2 separate regions of the Homo sapiens genome follow, and region 1 is linked to region 2. Evidence: fine-mapped expression QTL. A gene starts in region 2. The other region holds a variant in brackets. All regions are shown on one strand. Distances are from middle to middle. Region 1 holds the start of SLC39A5 (solute carrier family 39 member 5). Region 2 holds the start of MYL6B (myosin light chain 6B).

Region 1 (5,361 bases), 79 kb before region 2:
CCCTGTCTCTACTAAAATACAAAAAATTAGCTGGGCATGGTGGCGTGCACCTGTGATCCCAGCTACTCAGGAGGCTGAGACAGGAGAATCGCTTGAACCCAGGAGGCAGAGGTTGCAGTGAGCCGAGATTGCACCAGTGCACTCCAGCCTGGGCGACAGAGTGAGACTCCATCTCAAAAAAAAAAAAAAAAAATTAGCTGGGGATAGTAGTGAACACCTATAATCCCAGCTACTCGGGAGGCTGAGGCAGGAGAATTGCTTTAACCCAGGAGGTGGAGGTTGCAGTGAGCCAAGATCACGCCATTGCACTCCAGCCTGGGTGACAGAGTCAGACTCTACCTCAAAAAAATATATATATATATATTTAACACCTGTCCTTCCATTGCATAGACTCCTGGGTCTCTCCCAGGGTCCCCTTTGCTCCTACTGGCAGGTACCTTGGGGACTAGGGCCAAGGGTACTTATAATCAATGTGTATTATTAGTGAATATTCAGTCCAATGCAGGTATTCAATTTGATGCAAACTGGGTGCTAGTGAGCATTGTCATCATCTTCCCTGCAAACTCTGATCATTTCAATCATTTTGTTGATTTGATAAATGAAGCTGGTTGGAAAACTAGAGCTCTCCATGCCAGAATCTTAAAAGGGAAAAGACCCTGAAATGCCATCTAATCTCCCTCTCAACAGCCCTGTCGATGTTCATCCAGCCTCAGCTTGAATGCTTCCTGCAATGGGCACTCACTGGACCTCCATCAGGGTTAGGCAGCTTTGTCTGCCCTCTGGTGTAAGTGGAATATATTCTCTGTCTTTCTGGATGAAGACAGCCATCCATTCCCTGCAGGTCTCCTCTCCAGGTGACCATCCAGATCCTACCCTGGGCTGCTTCTCTAGATTCTCTGCTTTGCCATCTATTCCCCTAAACTGAGTCTTGGAGCTCTGGATATGGGCTCACCTGCTCTGATCCCAGAGGGAACATAGTTCACTATTGAAATAACATCCCCTAAGACCACAGTGAGATATTTTTTTTTTATTTTTTTATTTTTTTTATTTTCATTTTTGAGACAGAGTCTCGCTGTGTTACCCAGGCTGGAGTGCAGTGGTGCAATCTCGGCTGACTGCAATCTCCGCCTCCTGGGTTCAAGTGATTTTCCTGCCTCAGCCTTCCGAGTAACTGGGATTATAGGCATGTGCCACCACGCCCAGCTATTTTTTTTTTTTTTTTTTTTTTTTTTTTTTTTTTTTTGAGACAGAGTCTCCCTCTTGTTGCCCAGGCTGGAGTGCAAATGGTGCCATCTTGGCTCACTGCAACCTCTGCCTCCCAAGTTCAAGCAATTTTCTCACCTCAGCCTCCTGAGTAGCTAGGATTACACACACCTGTTACCACACCCGGCTAATTTTTGTATTTTTTAGTAGAGATGGGGTTTCACCATGTTGGCCAGGCTGGTCTCGAACTCCTGACCTCAGGTGATCCACCCACCTCGGCCTCCCAAAGTGTTGGGATTACAGGCGTGAGCCACCACGCTTGGTCCACGTTGGGATTTAAAAACAAAACAAAACAAAAAACTACTGATTATTTAAACATTTCAGGCCATCTAATCCCATGGCTCCTTCCCCTCTAGAGACCGTCAGACTCACATCCTCATTCAGGTGGTCAGCCAATGAGTGGTCCAGCAACAGAAGCCTGTGAAGGAGGTCCAGGCCCGAGGGGGCTGGCCCACGGGGTAGGTGAGGGGCCTTTGACTCTTCCAGGTCACCCCACCCTGAGGGACCCAGAGGCATCCCTGCCCAGACATCCACACTCAGCTCAGGGTTCTGTGGCCTGGAATGGATGAGACAGCAAGTCAGCCTCCCTTGTGTTCTCTATCAACCCGCTTTGAGAGGCTCCCAGGGATTTTAGGGGGAATGGGGGGACTAGCCACTGACTGGAGATCCTGGGACCCAGAAACCATGGAATGTCATTCTTAGGAAGATCTGTGAGTTGTCCATTTTCTGCCACTGGGGGGGACAGAAAAAAAAGGACGACAACCAAAAGGGCTACGAATGGCTGGGCACGGTGGCTCACGCCTGTAATCCCAGCACTTTGGGAGGCTGAGGTGGGTGGATCACCTGAGGTTGGAAGTTCGAGACCAGCCTGACCAAAATGGTGAAACCCCGTCTCTACTAAAATTGCAAAAATTAGCCCGGCGTGGTGGTGTGTGCCTGTAATCCCAGCTACTCAGGAGGCCGAGGCAGGAGAATCGCTTGAACCGGGGAGGCAGAGGTTACAGTGAGCCAAGATCACACCACTGCACTCCAGCCTGGGCGACAGAGCGAGACTCTGTCTCAAAAAAAAAAAAAAAAAAAAAAGAAAAGAAAAGAAAAAAGAAGTCTACGAATTTGGAGCCAAATCAGCCCAGAGACACTGAACAGTGATACTAAGAGCAAGAAATTTAAGGGCTTAGAGATTTGGAGGAGGAGAGAATTAGAAGGCAACGGAGGGCTAGGGTGGTAGTTCACATCTGTAGTCCCAGCACTTTGGGAAGCTGAGGCAGGCAGATCGCTGAGCTGAGCCCAGGAGTTTGAGACCAGCCTGGGCAACACAGCGAAACCCTTGTCTCTGTAAAAAATTTTTAAAATTAGCCGGCTGTGGTGGTGTGTGCCTATGGTCCCAGCTGCTCAGGAGGCTGAGGTGGGAGGATGGCTTCAGCCTGGGAAGCAGAGGTTGCAGTGAGCCGTGAATGTGTCACTGCACTTTAGCCTGGGTGACAAAGCGAGACCCCCAGTCTCAAGAAAAGAGAGAGAAGGCAATAGAAGCATGAGAGGTTTTGAAGAGATACCAAGGAGCTCGGTTCTGAAGAATTTGTAACTCCAGGGATCTCGTGAGGAAGCCAGAACGAGGCAACTGGGGGCAAGCACTGAGAGGACCTGGGAGATGTGGCCCTGTGGAGTGGAGGAAGGGGTCAGTACCTGTGTGTGGAATTGTCTGCAGCTGGGGATGCAGCCCGTCCAGTCAGAGGCCCATGCTGTCCCAGGCGAAGCCCCTGAACTCGGCCTAGCCCCAGGCTGTGGAGAAGCCGCGCCAAGCCCCCTGCAGTCAGCGTCCCATTCTCGCCGTACAGGCCAAACAGCTGGGCCAGGTAATGGTTCTGCTCCTGCTCAGCAGGGCCCAGGTTGGGGACTGAGCCCCCTACCCAGCCCAAGACGACCCACACACAGAAGCCGGCCAGCAGATGACTCACTGGGGACCCCATCATTGGTGAGGGGAAT[A/G]GCTTAGGGGCTCAGGTTCTGGCTCCTATTCTCCCCGAAACATCCTGAGGACTGTGCCCTGGAAGAATGAGGAATGGGCTGGAGCTGCGCTCTGCTCTCCAGCTCAGGTCCATGGGGGAGCCAGAGCTCCTTGCACCTGCTCCCCACCGAGTCCAGCAGCAGCCCCTACTGCAGCCTTCTTTCTCCCTTCACACTGCCTCCTGCGGGAGCAGCCTCTTGTTTGCTGGTTCCTGGAGCACCTCCCTGAGTCAGAGCTCTCCTCATACTTCATCCAGAGCTGACCGTCCATTCCTTGTCCCCTAAACCCCACCCCTCAACTTTGCCCCACCTCTTTATCCCCCCTCAATCCCCAGGGCCTCACCCCTACTGGCAACATAAGAGCTGTCACCTCAGGTCCCCTATTAGGCCTTGCTGTAGACGTTAAGCAGTTCCTGAGTCAGGGAAGGGGGAATCCAGGCTTAGCCTCCAGGTGTCCAGGTGGATCGGAGGCCACGTCACATAGAAGGCTGAGATGGACATGCACCCCCTCCTAGCCCACCTGCCTTGGGGCGGGGTCAGGGGTGGGGCCAGTGTGTGAAGGCTCACATAAGAGAGGAGTTAATGGTTCACTGGTCTCTGGGGTAGGGATCAAAAGTCAGTCTCTGCTGGGCCCCTGGGTAGGGAGGGGCCACCCTCTGCCCTGGGAAAGCCACATGGCTAAGGAGAACCTGGGCCTAGTCTTTTTCCTCTTAAATAATTCACCCTATCCTTAACACCATTAGTACCATTTTAGCCCTTTCCCTCATGTACTTCCACCCCACCTACCTTACAGTCTAGCACTAAACTTCATCTCCAACCCCCATCCCCATATTCCTTGGGAAGGTTGGACCCAGGTGTCCCTAACCTGGGGAGGAGGGGGGAAAAGGCAGATCAGTGGCAAGCCCAGATGCATGCATGGGAAATAAACTGTTCTTAGCAGTTTCTCACCCCAAGAAGAGAAAGAGCCAGAGCTCTAGGGATCGATGACCAAGAAAGGGGAAGCCCTGCGGGGGGAGAGGAAACAAGGATCTGGGCTCTCCTCTGATGTCTGACCTGGCCTAAAATCAGGCAAGCAAAGTCTGATCGGGGTGACTGGTCCAGGGGGTTGAGGTTGGCATTACCTGATAGCAGGAGACAAGGACACCCAGAGGAAGGGGGACACAACCTTCTTGGTTCCAGCTGGGGGGGCAGGCAGGCAGGCGGGCAAGGGTCACCTGCAGGGAGGGGGTAGGGGAGGGACACTACCTTAAAGGGGCAGGTCTGCTTTGCCTGGGCCTCCTTACCTGTAACCTATTTTCCTTCCACCTTCTAGGGACACCCCACCTTCCCAAATGCCTAGTTGCTAACCTCTTCCTTTTCCCACAGAAAGCAAAGGAGTCCAACACAGAGTAGAGTGGTAACATTTATTAGGAAGGAGAGACTTCAGTTAGACTCCCATGTCTCACACAGAAGAAACAGATGGTAACTGCCATTTCTTTCTTTCTTTCTTTCTTTCTTTCTTTTTTTTTTGAGATGGAGTTTCGCTCTTATTGCCCAGGCTGGAGTGCAATGGTGCAATTTCGGCTCACCTCAACCTCCGCCTCCCGGTTTCAAGAGATTCTCCTGCCTCAGCCTCCTAAGTAGCTGGGATTACAGGCATACGCCACCATGCCTGGCTAATTCTGTATTTTTAGTAGACACGGGGTTTCTCCATGTTGGTCAGGCTGGTCTTGAACTCCCGACCTCAGGTGATCCGCCCACCTCGGCTTCCCAAAGTGCTGGGATTACAAGCGTGAGCCACTGCGCCCAGCCAGTAACTGCCATTTCTAAAGAGGAAAGAGAGCAGGCAGAGGGTCCTGACTCCCAGGGGACAGGTAGTTCAGCTGGACAATGAGGGAGTATGAGATTAGGGTGGATAAGGACACTGCTCACCACCCTCCACTGAAGTTCAGTGGCTAAAATACTGCTACACCAGCCAATCAGTGGAAGGCTATCTTGCTCTCCAGGGGACACTTGGGATGTGGTTGGTGGCAGGAAGAAAGAATGTCATGCTATCTCTTGCTGCTCCTCCGGGTTTCTTTGCCGTTACTAACAGGGTTGCTGGAAGGGCCAGGCGGG
Region 2 (5,367 bases):
GATCCACCTCATTCTTTTTGTTACCAACATCCAACTTTTGAAAACTAAAAACCCAAATTGTTCCCAAGGGTCCCCTCACCATCACTCTTGGGGTTCCCCAGGACCTTGAGCACCTCGGCGTTGGTGGGGTTCTGGCCCAGGGCCCTCATCACGTCCCCACACTGGCTGTACAGGATCTTGCCATCCCCCACTCGGTCAAACAGCTCGAAGGCCTCCTTGAACTCTAAAGTATAAGGAAGGGTCAGTGTAGACACTGACTAGGGTTCCCATCACCCCCAGACAGAAGGGAATTTCAGAAACTATGTGAACAGAACAAGGGAGGAAAAGAGGACTAGTATGGGAGGTTTCAAGGTCAGGACTGGGGTTAGGGGAATAGAAAGAGAATCTGACCAGGGGATTGGGGATGGGACAGTGGCCTTAGATGAGCTTCTCCTCACCCTCCAGCTGGTCCTTGTTAAACTCGATCTGTGGAAGAAAAAAGCAGGTGGGGAGAGATGAGAGTTTATTCAATCCCTCTCCCGCACTCCTCCCAACCAACTGGCAGCCACTTCTGAGGAGGGGCCCAAAGGGACCAGGCTGGAAGCCCAGCCACCTCAGTCCCATTCCCAGCTCTGGGCCTTGGGAGAATCCCAAGAAGAGGAATTACAGTGGGGAGGGTTTCCTGGGAACAGGGTTAATCCCATGCCACCTGTTTCCCTCCCTCCATTGCCCTGAGCCCTGCATCCCACACATAACTGGGGGCTGAACAAAGGCTAAATTTACCCCTGGCCCCCAGCTGTGATTGTCTAACAAGTCTGTCCTCTTCAGCCTCCCCTCCTGGAGTTCAGAGCTGCAGGCCTTTTGAATTGAACCACCAGCCAGGGGCAGGCAACAGCTCTCTTCCCTTCACCTTGAAACTGTTCTCAGAACCCAGATGTTCCCCATCTAAGAGTCCCTGCCTCCAGCAGGGGGTAAGTGAGTGTGTATGTGCTGTACACACATGATTATAGGTTAGAGGGAGAGAACAGCAAAGACAACAGCAGAGTCATAAGACTGGATGCTTCCAAATGGGGGACTAAGGGAAAGCCCCAATCTCATTCCAGGGCTCACTGATTCCCTACCTTCTAGATACCCCCTAATCCCCTAGGCTGTATCCCACCCTCAAACCACCCCCTCCAATTCTATCTTCACTTTCCAGAGACTCACCACCACTTTGGAGAGATCGACTGGAGGCTCCTGGGTTTTCTGAGGGGCCTGGGGGACAGCTGGCTCAGCTTTGGTCTTGGCTGGAGGAGCCCCTGCTGCTGCTGGCTTAGCAGCAGGTTTGGAGATGGAGGGCCCTGCTGGTTTCTTCACGGGAACATCCTTCTTGGGAGGCATGATGTCCGGTGGCCAAAGGACAGTGTGCGGATGGGGGCACCCATCTCTGTTTAAATAGCCAGGGAGTCTGGGATGTCAAGGGGCGGGGGCAGGGGCAGGGAGCCAGTTGGCTGTGGCAAAGATGAGGTAGAGGAGAGATATAACCGCCTGCCCTCACTCCCCTGGCCTCCTATGGTTCAGGACTCCTGCCCCAAGGTCTTCTTCCCTCTGTCCCCTTATCCCCAAAGGCTGACCAGAAAAGAACAATGTTTCCTTTAGGGGTAGGGGAGGAAGCCAGAGACTGCCCAGAATGAGGTAGTTAACCTCCAGGGTGAGGATAGGATGCTTGCCAGTGGCACTGAGATGGGGGTGGTGAGGCAAAGCAGGTGATCCAGCAGCTTTAGTCTTCTTGAAGGGTGGGGTGAGGGGTAGCAGCCAGGGAGGCTTGTGTGAACTGGAACAAGTTAAAGTGTGGTCTGGGAGCAATGACAAAAACAAGAAGCCCATCTGCCCAGCCCCTCCACTCCCTTCTGACCATGGCTTTGTAAAGAGCAGGGGTAGTTAACCTTAGAGTCTAATGATCCCTAATACTTGTAGTTCCTGAGCCCCCACCCAGCCAAGAACTGGAACTATTCACAGTATAAAGGAAGAATAGTCATAAAAACAGGAGTATGACATCCCTCATTGTCTCCTGTGCCCAGTGTTGTTTTAGGGGCAGGAGTGGGGGCAAAGATCAGGTTTAACATCTGCTACCCATTCTTCCATGGAAGAAACCTTCCACAAGCCCACGGTCATTCAAGACAAACAAAAGGTAGGGTGCTTGCTGAACCTGTGGGGACCCTTTGGTGGCACCTGAGGAGAAGGGCAGGCTCTGGGAGACGGCTTAAATTCCCTAATCCAAGAGGATGTGGGCGCTCCTATGGCTCCATGAGTATTCACCCCACAACCAGGGGTATAATAAAAATCCTGACTCAGGGGCCAGGTCACAAACCTTGCCAGGGGCGCTGGGAGAGAGTCCAAGTTGGGGGGCGTTTGGGAGTGGGGAGGGATTGCAGGCTACTTTTGTTCTGGGGTAAATTAGGAAAGGATTTAGGTAGCATTCTGAGGAAGATAGCAGTGATTCCACTTAGGCCCCGGGGTTGATGCTGGGTCTCCCATTCGCAAAACAGCGTCTGAATCTCATGACTGCAAATTGTCCCATTTTTACAAAATACATCACACACACACGACACACACACACACACACACACTCACGCACCCCCACTAAATCTTAAAGAAAATGGCCCTCCTCAGCCCCCAAAAACTCACCCTGCGGGGTCCGTGTCTGGGGCTGGGGAGGGGGCGGGGCATAGCGCGGCCCCCAGCCCTGAAGGGTTAATTCCGGTGGCCGCGGAGCATGCCGGGAGTCGTAGTTCCCCGCGGGCTCACGGGATGCGCCGCGCTCTAGATTGCAGTTGACGCGAGGGCGGTGGCTTCCGGCCCATGGCGGTGGTTGGTGACTCAGTGTCCTTCCAGCGCGCTTTATGTCCCGGAACTGAAAGGCAATGAACAATTTCCAATCCACCCCAACCCTAAAAACCCTGCGGGGCCCCTAGGGTATCCCTCCTACTTAACCCTGGCGGGCTCCTAGTCTCGGGAGGTGGAGGGGGCGGGGCGGCTGTTTTCCTGGACCTACTGCTGAAAGAACTCAGAACCTGGGGAAAGATTGAGGCTGCAGCAGGCAGCGTGGAGGTCAGATAGCTGGAAGCACTTAACGGCCCCGGGGAGAACCGCTGCACTCTCTTTTGCTTCCTCTCGCGGTTTGGTAGAAAAAAAAGAGGCCTCAGAGTAGTTTGTTTTTAATGAGCTGGTTGCTGAAGTAAATGTTAAAATTTGCAATTAAGCCCAGTCACCTGCCCCAGCCTTCTCTGATCGAGGTTTCCATCCTGCGGCAGCATATGCGCCATCCTCCTCGATCTTCACAGGTCTCTGAGCGGAGGGCTGGGCTTTCCAGCCCTACTTTCTGAAACTCTTATGGTCAGCATTGGAGTTCACTGGTTCCCCTAGGCGTTGATCAGAGGATGGGAACCAGCCCGGCCGGGCCCACCTTCACTCACTGGATCAGTAAATACCCTGGCGGTGCACCTGGTGTTGGAAGCTGGTGCTGCACAGGCGTGTGAGGATTAGATCAGAGCAGAAAACTCGGGCGATGGCAGGGTGGTGAGGCACAGGTGAACTTTATGGGCAGTAAGTGAGGTTCACTGGTTGGGGAAAGTTTATTGGAAAGGTAGAAATGAATTGTACGACAGAAATAACGATAATAGTAAGTTAGCAACCATTTCTGGAGGCCGCCATAGATCTCGTACCGGTGAAGGGGCTAAATTATCTCAGAGGGTGCTCAAGTGGATGGGGTTCAGACAGCCTACTCAGATTTAAATCCTGGTTCTACCAGGTCCTAGTTAGTGACCCTCAGCAGGTTTAGTTATCTCTCCTGGGCCTCAGTTCCTCATCTGTAAAATAATGATAATGGTACCTACCTCATAGGGCTCTTCGGAGGATTCGAAGTGTTATTATTGGTAAAATAGGGCCGGGCTTGGTGGCTCACACCTCCCAGCACTTTGGGAGGCGAGGCAGGTGGGTCACCTGAGGTCAGGAGTTCGAGACCAGCCTGGCCAACATGGTGAAACCCTGTCACTACTAAAAATACAAAAAAAAAAAAAAAAAAAAAAAAAAAAAAAAATAGCTGGGCCTGGTGGCGGGCGCCTGTAATCTCAGTTACTTGGGAGGCTGAGGTCGGAGAATCACTTGAACCCGGCAGGTTGCAGTGAGCCGAGATCGCACCACTGCACTCCAGCCTGGGTGACAGAGTGAGACTCCAACTCAAAAAAAAAAAAAAGTGTAAAATAGAATAGGCCTGGCACAGCATAAGTGCTGTATAAGTTTTTGTTAAATAACTTTCCTTTAATCTTCCCAAGGTATGAGGTCGCTGATATTTTCCCCATTTTACATCAATGAAGTAAGGATCAATAGGTGTTGTGAAGAGACGGAGAGGAAGAAGGAATACATTTTTAAGTGGTTATAAGACTGGGAAAGGGCCACATTATAGATGCCTTTGTGTGGCTTTCATTACTTTTGCAGACATTGATTTCAAAATATGGCTCTTGTAATTTTTTTTCTTTCCTTTTCCCATTTTTGGCATTTTGCCAAGTATGAGTGGTTATGGCATCATCTGACTTTCTAGCATTTTCTATAGAGAAGTAGTACAGGGAAAAAACGTTAAGACCCTTGCAGAGATGGGAAGGCTATCCTTCATTTTCTGTGCCATCCCTGTCTTGATCATAAATAACAGGAACTGGACGAAACATGGTCTTAACTGGGCATAGGGTGATTATATATGTGAATTATCTGTGAGAAATGCCTGTCTCTCCTCTCTCCTCTCCCTGCTTAGCATGTGATTTGTATATTCTTATTTTTCTTTGGTTTTGTTTTTTTCTAGAAATGAGGTCTCACTGTGTTACCCAGTCTCAAACTGAGCTCAAGTGATCTTCCCATCTCAGGTGCCTCCCAAAGTGCTGGGATTATAGGTATGACCTACCTTGACTGGCCTGTATATTCTTAGAGATTGCATTTTGTGGGCAGGGAGGGAGGTGAGTCCGAAGCTTGCTTGCCTTCCCTAGGCATGCCGTCCTCCAGGAACCTCCACATGTTCAGCTGTCCAGAGTGGCCCATTAGATTGAAAGAATATGGAAAGCCATTGGGGAGCTGTTCCGCAGTGCACAGGTCTATGCACACTTACCCCCAAAGTCCAAGGAAGCTAAGAGGTTGAGGAAGGAGGCTGACAAATCCAGTTTCTTAGAAATATTTAATAGGAATTTATGAACAGAAGCCATGTCTGTGTCTTGGGTAGTGGTGAGACACGATGGTGGATCCCCAGGACATCATCCCCTGGAGTAAGTCCTGACCCCAGGACTTACCACAGGGAAGGAACCTCTAGGACAATTGAAGTCTACCCTGCAGGGAAAGGCAAGAATACTCAGTAAGCCAGGCTTT

The links. PIP is the estimated chance that this variant, and not a neighbour inherited with it, causes the effect.
Region 1: its variant is fine-mapped to the expression of MYL6B in blood mononuclear cells (TOPMed, PIP 0.95).

Annotation. Positions count from the first base shown.
Region 1 is chr12:56,229,147-56,234,507 of GRCh38, reverse strand. NABP2 (nucleic acid binding protein 2) reads right to left here. Exons shown (of 7, transcript NM_024068.4): 7 at 4,654-5,361. The coding sequence ends at 5,295. SLC39A5 (solute carrier family 39 member 5) reads right to left here and starts at 4,457. Exons shown (of 13, transcript NM_173596.3): 1 at 4,386-4,457; 2 at 4,213-4,268; 3 at 3,635-3,677; 4 at 2,947-3,304; 5 at 1,636-1,819. The coding sequence starts at 3,233. The variant A/G (reference allele first, on the strand shown) is at 3,247.
Region 2 is chr12:56,149,911-56,155,277 of GRCh38, reverse strand. It overlaps MYL6B (myosin light chain 6B), which reads right to left and starts at 2,691. Exons shown (of 8, transcript NM_002475.5): 1 at 2,647-2,691; 2 at 1,186-1,405; 3 at 438-465; 4 at 80-223. The coding sequence starts at 1,359. It overlaps LOC124902942, which reads right to left and starts at 3,451. Exons shown (of 3, transcript XM_047429954.1): 1 at 3,231-3,451; 2 at 2,647-2,872; 3 at 1,381-1,469. The coding sequence starts at 3,284. The coding sequence ends at 1,435. It overlaps MYL6B-AS1 (MYL6B antisense RNA 1), which reads left to right. Exons shown (of 3, transcript NR_186043.1): 3 at 4,293-4,482. It overlaps LOC124902943 (a long non-coding RNA gene), which reads left to right and starts at 1,405. Exons shown (of 2, transcript XR_007063328.1): 1 at 1,405-2,149. RefSeq lists an enhancer at 3,538-3,617.